Homo sapiens: one gene and its partner. Each later gene encodes a partner of the first gene's protein in a complex. Each region holds a gene or a part of one and is shown in the gene's direction. Other genes may lie near its edges.

Region 1 (7,430 bases):
CCTCCAGTACTCCAGTCCAGCGCCATGGGTGCAGGACTCCTGGAGGAAGGTACCAAGCTCAAGGAGACCTGGCCATGCCCCGGCCTCTGTGTGCTCTGAGGGGCTGCACCACTAAACAGTCCTGGGGAGTTTCGGGGGCTGTGGGGGTCCTCTCACCCAAAAGTATGTGTGGACATGCAGTGACATTCAGATCTCTCTTCTGCCTCAGCTGTCTCCTGCTGTGTTTGGCCAGGGAGAGGTTGGAAGCCTCTTATCAGGCCCCAGATTCACTCTGCCCTGTCTAGAAGACAAGGACAGTGTTTTTCTAATTACAGGTGGTGAAACTGAGGGCCCAAAGCAGTGACGGGACTTGGCCAGTGTCCCGCAGCAATTTCCCTGCCTGACCTCAAGACTCGCTCACTGCCTGTTTAGTGTCTTCTCTGAGAAATTATGCAGCTGGAAGGGGGCCCCGGGATAAACAATTGCAGAGAAACAGATGGGCGGCTCTGCAATCCTCCCCTCCAGTGTGCCTGAGAGCCCTCCCCTGCAGCCCTGGGGCCAGGAGGGGGCGCTGCTTCGCGGGGCTCCTGTTCCTCCCTCCTGGGGACCTAGGCTGGACAGTCCTGTCTTAGCTGCTCCTTCCCCAGCCTCCCAGCAGCCCTTCCACACGCCTTTCTCCCACCAGGCATCCTGACCAGGGCCCACTCTCATTTTCTATCACATCCTGATTCCTGGCCAGACATCGCCTGTCCCAAGGAAGGGCCCCTCTCCAGTAGGTGTCAGAGTCGCACCTTGCCCTTCTGGGAGGAGGGAAAGAGTGAAAAGGGGCCCACAAAACGGGGTCCCGCCCTTCAGAGGGCCAGAAGGGAGAAAATGGTCCCACCCATGCAACTCTCCGACGCTGAAGGCCCTGCATACCCCCAGCCTACTGTGGCAGAGCTGATACCCTGGACTCGCCCATGCAACTCTCTGACACTGAAGGCTCTGCATGCTTCAGGCTGGCTCTGCCTCCCACTTCCTGCTCCCTCCCACTTCCCCCACACCTAGCTGACCCCCTTCCCCTTGCCTCATCTTCAGGCACCCCCAATAAGCTCACTTGCCCTTCCCACCCCCAAGAGCTCAGCAGGCTCCTCTCTCTCCATCACACCCCCCACCTCCAGAACACCATCGACCTTAGAATTGCCTCTCCCTAGTCTGCCTCCTCTGGGCACCCCTGCCTGAAGCACTCCACCCTCCCGAGGTCTGGGCACATGGGGTTCTGCAGTCTCATCGGCCTCCCCTGCCCTCTGTGTTGCCCTTTGGTGAGGCCTCTCATTTGGTTTTTCTCAAACAGCACCCCTCTAGGCCTGACTCTAGTACATTCCACTGTTAGCCTGGTTTTCTGTCGAGGTTTTCCTCTTCTCTTCCCTTCTCTTCCTGTGTTTCCAGGCTCAGCACAGACTTTTCCTTCTCCAGGAAGCCCACCCTGCTAGTCCAGGCTGGAGGAGGAGCCCTCCTTGGGTGGCCTCAGCCTGACCTGTCCCCTTCCCTGTCATTGTCCTTTTCAGCCTACAAAGCTCATGTCTGTCTGCTAGGGGGTTCTTCCCGGCTGGATGGAACCCTGCAGGCTTCAGGGATGCTCAGTAGATACCGGGAGATCAGCGAGATCAGTGAGAACGACATGATTCCTTACAGAATTACCGCGGCCTTGGGGCCTTTTCTCCCTCTTTTGCCGTTAGGAGGAAATTTAAAATTGAGCAGTCAATAAAATGACTTGAATAGCTCATATTCAGCTGCTCAGTGAGTTCAACTTTCCCAGGCCATGCCCCTGGGGCCTGGGGCAGAAGAAGCAGACTTCGTAAGGGAAAAGCAACAAAAAGGGACCTGAGTTCCAAATCTAGGCTCAGGAGGAAGAGTGGGCGTCCTCTGCAGCTCCCCAGGCAAGGAAAGCAAAGGGAGAGGGGAAACCTTCATCTCCAAGGCAGTTATGTGCTGATGGCACACCTCCCGGTGGCCCCTCCTGCCCAGGCCTCTGACTCTTACCCACCCTGCCTCCCAGGCCCCAGCTAAGCAGAAGCTGCTCCACAGCCTGCCCCCCGGGAAGCCTCCCTCTGCAGATGACCACCGCCCAGTGGTCAGGAGTGGCAGCTCACCAGATTTCCCTTCCAAAGATGGGAAGGTGAGTCCAGGGAATCGGCTCTGCCACAGTAGGTTGGGGGTGTCAGTTTTATTAATTTAGCCTCAAAGTTCAAACAGAGAGGAGACCTAGATAGTCAATCACCTGGACGCGAATGTGTCTAGGAACACAGAAGACAGGAAGGACCAACCTAAGGACGTTCAGACAGAAGGAAGTAGCCATGAACAGCGGAAGATTTCCTTAATAAGGGGCTTTAGAGGATGTACTGCTGGCCCCTGGAAACCAGCCCAGTGCTTGACTCTAGAGTCAGTCTGTGTGGCTCTGCCTGACTCTTTAAACAGGTATAAAGAAAGCAAGTGTCAGAGAAGTTCCAGATGGTAACATCCTTCTTTGCACAGCAGGCAAAAAGCAGAGGGAACTTTCACAGCCCACCTGGATACCCCTCCCTATACTGCTTTCTAGTTCCTCTTCCTTTCTCCTCAAATGAAAGAGTGGTGCCACTCTATGGGTGTTAGCACGGAGAGGAATTGGGGGGCTGCGTGGAGGTGGTGACTCAATTCACCAGAATCCACAGAAGGTGCCCTGTTGATGTCTGGATCTTCCTGGAGATCAGGAAACTTTGCTGCCCCAAACTCAGACCTCAGGTGTTAGCTGTTTCCTAAGCAAAGTGACCTGTGTAGTGGTTGCTCCAATGTTGTGAGTCAGGGTATGAGAGTGGGAAGGGGTAGCCTGAGAAAGGTGCCGACAGAGCAGACCATGATGCGGCCGCCTTAGCAGCTCTGGGACCAGGCTCACTACCACGGAGGGAAGAGGGAGGCTTGGAGGGAACCTGGTTCTCCAAGCCCCTCTTCACTCCAGTTGCCTTCCTGCCTCAGGCACAGCTTCCTCTCCCTGGAAAATCTCGTCTGGGCTACTGTCTCCCCAGAATCGCCTTCACGCCTGGGGACAGCCACTGCACTCCTGCGGCAACATTTGTTCTCTCTCCAGCCTGCGTCCTGCTCAGCAGCAGCCAGTCATAGATTCCTGCTCTTCAATCAATTCGGGGGATCTGGGCTCTCCGCCTCTGCGGCCCACACCGCAGTGCCCAAATGCCCACCACACTCCTTAGTGTCCAAGGGACCGAGAAGCCCAGTGCAAGGAGAGCAAGTTCGTGAGTGGTAGGGATATGTGGCCATGTCCCGAGAGCCACGGGGACCTCTCTACAGTCAAAAACGGGAAGTTGACCACCTGTCACGGCTGGCAGAGGCTGGACTGGGCCGCTGGCTAGGAAGCTCTCTCCCCAGCCTGTGAAAGTGCACAGGATACTGGAGCGGGCTTCCCCCAGCAGCGGATCCTCGCGTGGGTGCAGGCAAGGTCAGGTGCGCATTGTTCCCACAGAGGGAGTTCACCAGCGGAGTCAGACCCCGGGACGTTCTGTGTGGCCGAAACCGGCTGAACGTGAACCTAGAGCAGTAACTGGCGAGCATACGATGCCGCGGAGCACACGCATGAGCATGAATATCTTGGTTCCGCGCTCGCAGTCCCCTCGTTCCCGCCTTGCGCTCAAACACTCAGGCTGGCGACACCCCTGCACTCTCCAGTGTGGAAGACTTGCGCTCCCCCCTGCGGCCCAGGCGAACCCCGCTCTCCCTGCGCCTCCCACCCCAGTCCTCCAACCCCATCCTCTGCCTCCCCAACCTAACGACGTCGCTGTGGTCTGCGCTCCCGCCCTGACCGGCAGGTGAAAGGCGGAGCTGCAATGCCATCCCGCGGCTGTCAGGTGCCCAGGGAAGAGTTTGGCGACAAGCAGGGCTGCGTGGATTTCGGGCAGCGCCAACTTTATGCCTGTATGACTTTGGGCAAGTGACTTCATTCCTCTGAGCCTGTCTTTGCACCTGCAAAGAGGGCTACGTATCCCTTCCAGGTAGAGTGAGTGCGATGAGGACCTAGTGGGTGCACAGGGCACCAGGCGCACCGATGCTCGGCAGGCCAGGGCGCGCGCTCGCTGCAAATGGAGTTCCCCTGTGCGCTCAGCTCTGCAGCTCCAAGTGCAGCCTGGAGCGAGCCCGCCGAGCCGCGGGATCCCTCCGGGGTGGGATAAGGGAGGGGAGCCCCCGCGGCCCCCTCCCGGCCCTCGGCGCGGCCGCGTGCGTGGTGTCATTGGCCCGGGCGGCCCGGTGGGCGGGAGGATGACATCAGCGGCAGGTTGGATTATAAAGGCGCGAGCAGAGTCACGGGCTCAGAGCGCACCCAGCCGGCGCCGCGCAGCACTGGGACCCTGCTCGCCCTGCAGCCCAGCCAGCCTGCTCCGCATCCCCCTGCTGGTCTGCCCGCCGACCTGCGCGCCCTCGCTGCCGCCCGTGTGCGCCCCTCGACCCCAGCGGCACCATGCATCTCTCCCAGCTGCTGGCCTGCGCCCTGCTGCTCACGCTGCTCTCCCTCCGGCCCTCCGAAGCCAAGCCCGGGGCGCCGCCGAAGGTGGGTGCTGTCGTGGGGACGCCGAGCCTGGGAGAGGCGTGGGAGGCTGGGGGCTTGGAGAATGCGGCGCGCAGGACCCAGGAGAGAGGGAAGGCAGGCGGCTGTCTCCTCCGAGATGCGCGTGGGCGAGAGCCGGGGAGCCCTCGAAGCGCGGATTCGGGGGTCCACTTCTCCAGCCTCCGGAGAACATCGGCCCATGCGCAGCCCCCTACCCCAGTGTGGCCTGCCCGGCGAGCAGCAAAGGGAGGGCAGGGGGCTTCCGGAGGGAGCGGCGAAGGCGGCCGCGTGGCAGGTGGATGCGGGGCCAAGCTGGCCGGCATCGGTGGGGGCGGCTCTGGGCTTGGGAGGGACACCCCGCGCCGGCGGGCGCGTGGGGCTGGAGCATCAGAGTCCCCCGTGCTGCAGCCGCGTGTCCCTTCACCTGCCCGCTCTTTCCTCGGACAGGTCCCGCGAACCCCGCCGGCAGAGGAGCTGGCCGAGCCGCAGGCTGCGGGCGGCGGTCAGAAGAAGGGCGACAAGGCTCCCGGGGGCGGGGGCGCCAATCTCAAGGGCGACCGGTCGCGACTGCTCCGGGACCTGCGCGTGGACACCAAGTCGCGGGCAGCGTGGGCTCGCCTTCTGCAAGAGCACCCCAACGCGCGCAAATACAAAGGAGCCAACAAGAAGGGCTTGTCCAAGGGCTGCTTCGGCCTCAAGCTGGACCGAATCGGCTCCATGAGCGGCCTGGGATGTTAGTGCGGCGCCCCCTGGCGGCGGTGAGTACGGCCCACCCGACGCCCAGCCCCAGCCCGGCCCGGGACCGCCCGCCGCCCAGCCGGCCTTCGGAGGCGCGCGAGCCGCCTTTGCTCAAGTTGTGCTAGGCGTTTGCCAGCCGCCCCCTTTATTATCCCACTTTACAGACAAAGAAAGCGAAGGATAACGTGATCGGGGAACTTTGGCAAGGTCAGAAACGGCTCAGCCTGGTTGAACCCACCTGGCTTCTTCTGGAGAAGCAGAAACAGGCTTGGTGGTGTCTCACCCACCCCTGAACCGTAGCTGAACTAGCAGCACTGGCCCCTATTGGCCAGCTGGTGGGGGGATTGAGAGGAGATCATGGGTTTGTGGGAGCAGAGAAGGAAGGTTACACCCACAAGTCCAGGGGACATCGATCATCTGCTGGCCACCATGCCCCCTGTAGTGAGAGTAGCCCTCTGCTGGCACTGTCAGAGCGCCCTTCTGCCTGGGACACTCCGATTCCTGTCCCTTCTCTAAACCCAGGCAGTGGGCAAACTGGTCTGTCCAGGGTCCTGAGGCAGCTGCAGCCTGGTGGCTTCGGGGGTGAATCTCAGTGCTTGTGGCACTATTTCAGGGAATAGGAAAGACACTAAAGTAAATATTATTTGCCCCAGCCTCGAACTCAACACGTCCCAGAGTCCCTCACCAACCCTGTCCCGACCCAACCGGTGCTCTGGGCTCCGTTTCTGGTGTGGGGTCTCACCCCGCACTAGGGCTGGAAACCTCTGCCCTACCGCCACCCCCTGCCGGGTGCCGCGTGGTGGTAATTTACTGCTGCAGAGAGCCTCACCTCTCCTCTTTCCCTCCTCTCTATTCCTGCCGCCTGCCCGTGCCCACTGAATAACATCCCAGCCTCTGACATTGACAGTCATGTGCGTTAGGATCAGGCTTACCTGGCTTTCTCGCTTTCTTGCCTCCAGCTCAGCAGCTGCCACTGCCTGTCCCACACCTTGACTGTCCCATCCCAGGCTACGGGCAAGCTGCTGTCTCCTCCCCAGAAACCCTTGTCAGTGTCGGATCTTCTCCCGGAGGGAAACAAGAGCGCCTGTCCAGCACACTGTCTCTTTTTTACAGTACAGAACACTTTTTCACAGTTTGTGAACCCATTCACCTCTCCATATTGAACAGCTTAAGGGCGAAGTGCTGGCCTAAGGCACTCTAGGACCCACTGCACCCCGAACAGACTCGTGGAAATATTTGTCAATGACCAGAGAAACCAGCACACCCTGGCCCATGGCCACTCCCACCTGCCCGAGGTTTTAACCAGTGCCCTTCCTCTCTTTGCAGCCAGACCTCACTCGGCTGTGGGCCTCTCCCCAGTTCTGCAAAGGCTGTAGTTGTCTGTGATCTTGACTCTCCCCTGCACAGGGAGAAGAATGATTCTGACACTTGGGGACCAGCCTTCAGTAGCTACCCTTGGAATGCCTTTGCTCTCTTCTCTCCTGTCTAAACAACAAAGAGACGGAGTCTGAGGCCTCAAATTTTCAGTTTGATTTAAGCATCAAGTTCAAACTTTAGAACCTGAGCAAATGTTAGTGACTCTCCATTGGTTCGTACCTGGAATGCGCATCCCCACAGGGGCTTTGTTCTTGGGCCTGGATGTCTGTGGTCACCAAGTGATGGCCAAACGGGTGGTGAAAGATGCTGTGTAGGAGGAATCCACATTGTTAAGAATTCTCGACCCCTTTGATCAGGGGGGTTCAATAATCTCCTACCAGCTCTCTTAGCATAGATGAACACTTACCGTCGACACCTTCAACACCGGCTTACGCCCAACACCAGCTGTTTTATTATTATTTGGGAAGGGCGGTGTGGATTTATTATTTGGGATTTTTTAAATGAAAAATAAAAACCCCACCCTCACTGCCCCCCATTCCCAGTGAGAGAGCAGAACATCATTCCTGCAGGCTCCTGGTGACGATGCCCAGGATATATCACTGGGCGTAAAGAGAAAGACAGCTTAGATTTTTCACATTAATGAAAACTCTTTGAGGTTGTGGCTGTTTCTCCACGCAGTGGGTGACCTGGGCTCTAAGCCACCGTAATGATGGTGGTTGATGGTTCTAGGTATTCATTGTAAAATGCTAATGACAGAGACTGGGTG
Region 2 (7,151 bases), on another chromosome or scaffold:
TCCATCTGGTTGTCTTCTTTGACTTTATTTATTTATTTTGAGATAGTCTTGCTGTCTCACCCAGACTCATGTGCAGTGGTGTGATCCTGGCTCGTTGCAACCTCCACCTTCCAGGTTCAAGTGATTCTCTTGCCTCAGCCTCCTGAGTAGCTGGGATTACAGGTGCCTGCCACCACACCCAGCTGATTTTTGTATTTTTAGTAGAGATAGGGTTTCACCATGTTGACCAGGCTGGTCTCAAACTCCTGACCTCAGGTGATCCACCCACCTTGGCCTCCCAATTCTTTGACTTTAAACTCAAAAGAGAGTGGCTATATCTGAAATCTTCAGTTCCAGTTTTCCTCTGATTCTTGAATTTTCTTCTGTTCTCACTGTGTCCACTCTCTTAATAGTGTTTTTGTTTATCTGGCACTTTCTCAAGTGGTTCTTAAGCTTTGCACTGGGCAAAAACAAACAAACAAAAACATAAAACAAAAAACAAGTGTAGGGTCCCTTAGAAAATATTTCTGAAAAAGGAAAAGTTGCCTCCAATGGGAAATCGAGGAACTTCTTGCAATGAATGAAACTCGAGGCATTTCTAACTGTATCTCCAAATGAACCCTGATTATCCATGCTTCTTTTTCAAGCAGGTGGCCTAGAAGAATCGGCAGTGACAGGAATTGTCGTGGGGGCTTTACTAGGAGCTGGCTTGCTAATGGCCTTCTACTTTTTCAGGTGAGGACGGTTTGTAAAGGTACAATTCACTCTCTTCTGCTGTCTTTGTCATTTGATTTTACATGATTCTCTTTGTGATTTGTCCACATCCCTCTTTCACCCAGGAAGCACGGTGGTTAAAAAATCTCAGCCATTCTTTTGGCAGGACCCCAGGTTTGGTGTGGTCAGTGGTTTAGCATACTGGGTGCCAGGGTCATGGGTTTTGACTACATCTCACAGTGGGACAGAGAGCTGCTGCTGCCCTTTGATCACAGATTTTTTTTTTTTTTTTTTTTTTTTTTTTGAGACGGAGTCTCAGTCCCCCTGTTACCCAGGCTGGAGTGCAGTGGCACGATCTCTGTTCACTGCAACCTCCACCTCCTGGGTTCAAGCAATTCTGCCTCAGCCTCACGAGGAGCTGGGACTACAGGTGCAGACCACCATGGCTGGCTAATTTTTTGTATGTTTATTAGAGATGGGGTTTCACCATGTTGGCCAGGTTGGTCTTGAACTCCTGACCTCCAGTGATCCATCTACCTCGACCTCCCAAAGTGCTGGGATTACAGGTGTGAGCCACTGTGTCTAGCCCTTTGATCACAGATATTCTGACAAGAATTCCTACCACCCACCAAGTGAAGCAGTGGGGAGGGAATCTGGATAAAGGGGGAAATCAACTTCCCCCTTCTCAGGCTTTCTCCAATTCAGAAATAGATGCCTGGGCTCACCTTAAAGAGGAGGAGGGAGCTTTGCGTAGCCCATGCTCTCAGGCTGATCTGTGCTCAGTATCTGGAGAGCCCACATGCTCATTTGCCACTGTGGTTAAGCTCCAAGGCTTGCAAAATTGTAATAATGTACGTGTGTGCACTGGTACTGATTGTTCTGCCCCGTGAGGGTGGCCCATTCCTTTGTAATCTTTGGTGGTTGAGTTTGTGGTTTATTCATAAGTCATTAGAGCAAGGTTTCTTTATTTCTGCATGGGATTGTAACTAGGCATATGTGACCCTTTGTGGGAACAATTGTATTCCTGTTCCTTTGGCCACAGTACATGTAATTTGATCTTTATCAAGGGCATATCCTGGGAATCAGGGAGAACTTCTGTAGCCTAATAGACAAGACCTAACCCCCAAGGCACCCAGGGAAGAAGGGGAAGGCTTGTTCTGTGGTATTTGGGAAAGCATGCCAATTTTCTCTCTTGAATAAGGGCACCATGCCTGGGGGCACACTACTTTAATCTCTGACCAGGGTTTCATATTCTGTCACTTCTCATTTATCAACTGAAACCCAGATGTCCCTTGAGGGCACTCTTTGTAAGAGAAACCATGGTATTTTGTAGCCAAGTTTTATTACCACATTCACTTTCCCTTTACCCAGGAAGAAATACAGAATAACCATTGAGAGGCGAACCCAGCAAGAAGAAAGTAACCTTGGAAAACATCGGGAATTACGGGAAGATTCCATCAGATCCCATTTTTCAGTAGCTTAAAGGAAGCCCCCCACTTTTTTTTTTTCTGCCTGAGATTCTTTAAGGAGATAGACGGGTTGAAAGACATCAATGAAACAGAAGGGGCGTTCTTGAAGAATTCATAATTTTAAGCAGTTAGTAATTTCATTTTAAAATTTCTGTAGAAGCTCAGGAATTATGATTAATCACCATCTGCCTCCAGGCCTTTCATCTCATGACAAACAAATATAATAATGATATCGTGTCACTCTGTTAAATGTTCATACTGTTTCAAGCCCATATGATTAGATTTATGTTTTTAAAATCTGTTGTCTCCATATCTTGATGGCTTTTGGGAGCATTTCACACAAGGATATAAAATGCGGTTTTCTTAAATGAAATGTTTTGTAGCTAGAATAAAATCATTTTTACAAGTACAGCATTCTTGGAAAGAATTTAACACCCAAAAAGGGGAAAATGTAATGAAAAATCTCAAGGTTGGAAATACAGCCTTACTCTCTCTAGAGCTGGAGGACAGGTTTGTGGTTGAGGACTTCTCTGTCCGATGTCTACATTCAGGTTCTGACTTCATATCTTGAAAAAGGATTTCCTCCCTGTCTTTTTCAGTGTCTCATAAACGCTACTCTGGATTGTTGTAAATATTAGTGAGATGGGAGGATTTACAGAAGAAAAGCAAGTCAAAAATATTTCCTTTTTGATGTAAAAAAAAAAAGCCCTATTTCGCACTAACATTTTATTTTACAAGTATTTTAATCTTATATTTTGGTATTAGAAAAATTTGTCTATTTTTTCATTTTGAAGATTAAATGTTGCTTACATTTTAAAAGCATGGGTGAAGTGTACAACAAACCAATAATGATAAAAAATACTTCTCTTTTTCTCCCTGTTTCCCTTTTTCCCTTGGCCACAGCCAAATGCTAATTGCTGCTTTAATTACAGAGATGTGTAAATGTATTCAGATTACAAACTCTACAGGAATACATCAACATTTTAACTCTTTTGCGTTTTTACTGTTTAACTGTTTTAAATGCAAGTTATTTTAGGGTGACACTCCTTCCAGTTCTGGCCAGATCATGAGTTTCAAGATCAAGAGTAAAAAGTTATTAGAATTAAACAGTTTTATAAAGGGAGGCAGCCCTTTTCCCTCAAGAACAACTTTGTTGAGAGTTACTACTTGACAGCAAGCACAGAAATGACAAATTTAAAACTTTTACACATGGCATTTACCAAAATTCCCAGTGATTATTTTGTTTAAAAGAGGGAACCTAAATATCTACTCTATTCCCTTTCAGTTAACTCCACAGAACTTTGTAGGCATCCATGAATACCTGTAATAGTGGGTTAGGTGTGGAGATAAGGAATTTGGACAAAGTTGAGTAAGTTTTTACTGGGTATCTGCTTTGCACCCAGTAGTCTGCAACATGAGTTTAAACTCAGGTTACTACTTTCACTTATACTTTATGGAGAAGATAGACAGTGAGGGAGGAATGGGAAGCTGTCATGAGAGTGCACCGTCTTGGAATTACATAACTGGGGTCTTTCCTCAATAACATTTTGAGCATCTGAAAAATAGTTTAAAAAATTGTCTTAATATCTATTAAAAGGCATGTCTAGTGAGGAAACAGGAGAGTCTGAGCAATCCCTTGGTGGCGATGAAGGTGGTAGTTCACACAAGTAACAGTGGAGGCAAAGGTAAGCGCAAGCTGCCTGTCCCAGATGCTGGCCCATGTGTGAGTGCTTCCCTGGAGAAGTCCGCTTCTGTTGCTCCCACCTGAGTCACAGTTAACAGATTATTTCTGTGTGAGGCACATTTCCCTTCTGTTGTTTAAGAAATGGGAGCTGGGAGGCAGCTGAGAGGGCGTGATAAAAGAATTAAGTGTGATCAACTGAAACAACTATGTTGTAGTTCTCCATGCTGGATGCAAAGGAAAAAGTGTCGAATTCCAAAAAGGATGGAAGAAGAAGGCAAGAAGGGCAAACTCCAGAAGTTCTAGTGCAGGAAGAGAGTTTGAGAAGTAAAATCCAGGCAAGCAAAGCGTTGTACCACTTGGGACTCCCCAAAGTGAAACAGCAAGGAAGGATTGTGTCCATCTTACTTACTTGAATTGGAGAGCTTGTTTCTCTCTCATTTTTATTTTTCAATGATGTTTTCTTTATATTTTAGAGATATTCATTTTCTCTTATCTTGTGCTTGTAAAAAGCATTTACATTTCAAGTCTATGTGCTTATTACAGGGGAAAAATAATCTACCTGGTTGCAGTCTTTGAGTATAAACATTTCTAACCTTTTTAAAACTTCTATAGCAGCCCATTAACACTAACATTTTTAGAGCAAATATATTCTATTTTAACTTCAGGTAGAGGAATAGTCCTAAACTTAATATGATAGCTCTAGATAAGATCTTAGAGATAAGTGAGCATTTAGTATTCTAAAAGTGGCAGAACAAATCATGAGGTTTCTGGATGCTATACCAATTTAAAATCAATTCTTATGTTAATATTGATTGCTTATTTACATGTCAGTCATCTACTTTTTTTCTTTGAAATCTGCATATGGGTTACAAAAACTCTGTTAGGTTTTGAAAATTCCATTAAGTTGGAAACCTTGGTTAAAAATGTAGGTGCCTGGCCCATGGTTACCCTGGATTCAGGTCTCTCATGATTATATTTGGGGATTTACGTTCCTAACTGCTAAGCAACATCTTTGACAACTAGTAATTCATACTCTACTAGTAGTCACATGTCATATAGTAAAATAAATAGGGCTTTAGTTCTTAAGTAATTCTATAGGATTTTACCCTGAAATCCAGGGTGTTCAGATTTCAAAAAGGATAATTTATCAGTATTTTCTCATCCAGTCAAACTTCAGCTGACATTGATACAGGTCAAAATGCGTAGATGCTTTTTGGTGTTGGAAATAAGTGTCTGTCTTATGGTCATCATTGTCTTCTTAGATTTTTGGGTAGGGGGGCCAGGTAGGGGGAGACTCAGAAATAAAAGCGTTCCCCAGATAACTTCAATCTGGAAAGAATTTTTTGTATAGAGTCCATCTCTCCCTCAAGACTGACCACAGGTTTCATGAGAAGGTCCCTGAAAACATCACATTTCTCTGAAGAACCATCAACTTGTCTTTTCTTGAACCACAGGAATGGTTCTACAGACCCTACTATAATTCTTCACATTTCAGAACCCATGTTTAATGGAGGGAAGAGAGAAATGCATGGGAAAAGAACACCTCCTTTTCTCCTTTCTCTTAAATTCAAAGACGTTTGCTTTGGAATGCCCTCACTTCTCCCTATTCACAGGCTTCTAAAATCATTAATTTACTCAAGGCACATGTGCCTTCTTTGCCCCAAATGCATCACTTTCCTTTTAGTTATGGCTGATTTTGGGTGTGTGTGTGTAAGACATGCAGTCAACAATGAGATGAAGGCCATTGCATAGATCTCATGCAGATAGTGATGGATTCAGAAAGTAGGTTCCAGTGGCGTCACTACCTTCTTGTAAGCCAGTATACACTGGCTATTTGTGGAAATCTCTTTGGGAGATCAAATAGAGTATTATGCCACTGTGAGTGTTTATAAACTGGAAGGAACAAGTACCTGTGTTTCTTGGGACACAAAGCACTCAGATCCTGAGTGGATGCAGACATGAGAGTAAATGTCAGCCCAAATTAGGCCCCTCGACCTACAGACATTTCATGGGTTTTATTTAATCACACCCCATGGTTTGGGGCTACATGAGGAAGTTGGTAATGAGCTGAATTTCTTATTCAGTGGAAAAAACTGAAACTGTCTAAAAACACGGGATATATTTTAGAGGCAATTGTGGAAGCGGAGAGAATGAGATGATGGTGTTCAGAGGGACCAGCTTCTTTTTCAGTTGTCTTTAGAACTCAAGAATAATCAATAATTTAGTGCCCCTTCAACAGCCATACTCAGCAAGAAGAATCAGAAGCTTGATCCTCTAACAGAAATAGAAGAGGGTAGCTTTGCCCATTGCCACTGTCTTTACTGCCCCTTCTGCCCCTCCACCCACATCCACATTCAGCATCACTCCAAGGATGTGTCAGCATCTTGCCCATGCAGGTAGAAATTTGTGAGTAGGCCTCCATACTTCCTCGGGGGAAGAAAGAGAAACTAGTGCTGGTTTTAAGAATGTAGCTGGCTTTTCATCAGAACCCTTATGCTAACCTGACCACACTTGCTCTCGGGGAAGTTCAAGCCTGTGATGTGCATAAACTCCAACAAGCCTGGCTTTGGTGTTCAGCATGCACATTCCATAAATATCTCTTGCAGGCATACCCCACAGCTAGACTGCAGGATTAAAATAACTTCCAAAAGGTGCTGGATTGGAGTTTGTTCAAATTTCTCATTAACCACTAATGTTAATTCATACCAAATGCAAAGTATTCTAAACCAGCTGATGCTGTCAGTGTTCAAGTTTTAAGTGACTTCAAACACAATGGAAGTGTTTCAATGGGAGCCAGATCTCATGAGTAAAAATCCATTTTATAATAGCTCTGTGATATATCAGTGGGAGATGATTCATAGGGGAGAGATTTGAACAAGCAGAATTAAGTGTTAGCAAAAATGCTGCATTGCTTTGATTCATGTTTAAAGACCTAAATTTCTATGCACAAGGAATAAAGGGCCTACTTACCAAGTGTAAATCACAACATAGGCTACCAAAATATTTCTTATTTGCTAGGAGAACAAAGCTGTCACGGTGCATGATAGTTGGACAGAGATGGCTAAAAAAGAGGCAAATTCAGATTTGGAAACAGGGTGGCCTCTTCATTATTTATTGCCAAGATCTGAAAATCTTCAACATCTTATAAGACAACAATGAAGTAGCCCCTGAACAGCATGGAGTTGCTGTGAGTTTGTTCGTTGCAGACCTTTGTGTTGGGTCCTGGGAATCTGAGCTTTGTTCCCTGTGCATGGTGGATAATTGAAACCAAGAGGACATGGGATAGACCTTGTGACAGACCAATT

What was found.
Region 2: the proteins of NPPC (region 1) and NPR3 are in contact, whole or in part, in a crystal structure (PDB 1JDP), measured with the Homo sapiens proteins. Residues at the interface, in NP_077720.1 of Homo sapiens: Gly109 (codon at 5,231), Cys110 (codon at 5,234), Phe111 (codon at 5,237), Gly112 (codon at 5,240), Leu113 (codon at 5,243), Lys114 (codon at 5,246), Leu115 (codon at 5,249), Asp116 (codon at 5,252), Arg117 (codon at 5,255), Ile118 (codon at 5,258), Gly119 (codon at 5,261), Ser120 (codon at 5,264), Met121 (codon at 5,267), Ser122 (codon at 5,270), Gly123 (codon at 5,273), Leu124 (codon at 5,276), Gly125 (codon at 5,279), Cys126 (codon at 5,282); in NP_001191304.1 of Homo sapiens: Asn110, Tyr138, Ala141, Pro142, Arg145, Ala161, Gly163, Phe164, His166, Glu170, Tyr171, Tyr204, Lys208, Leu209, Arg211, Tyr214, Phe215, Leu217, Glu218, His221, Glu222, Gln225, Ile233.

Annotation. Positions count from the first base shown.
Region 1 is NC_000002.12:231,923,282-231,930,711, reverse strand, and holds the start of NPPC (C-type natriuretic peptide preproprotein), read left to right. Parts: upstream 1-4,315; 5' UTR 4,316-4,462; coding exon 4,463-4,552; intron 4,553-4,996; coding exon 4,997-5,287; 3' UTR 5,288-5,307; intron 5,308-6,246; exon of another isoform or gene 6,247-7,430.
Region 2 is NC_000005.10:32,784,170-32,791,320, forward strand, and holds part of NPR3 (atrial natriuretic peptide receptor 3 isoform 1 precursor), read left to right. Parts: intron 1-626; coding exon 627-714; intron 715-2,064; coding exon 2,065-2,176; 3' UTR 2,177-7,151. UniProt on the Homo sapiens protein: Receptor for the natriuretic peptide hormones, binding with similar affinities atrial natriuretic peptide NPPA/ANP, brain natriuretic peptide NPPB/BNP, and C-type natriuretic peptide NPPC/CNP.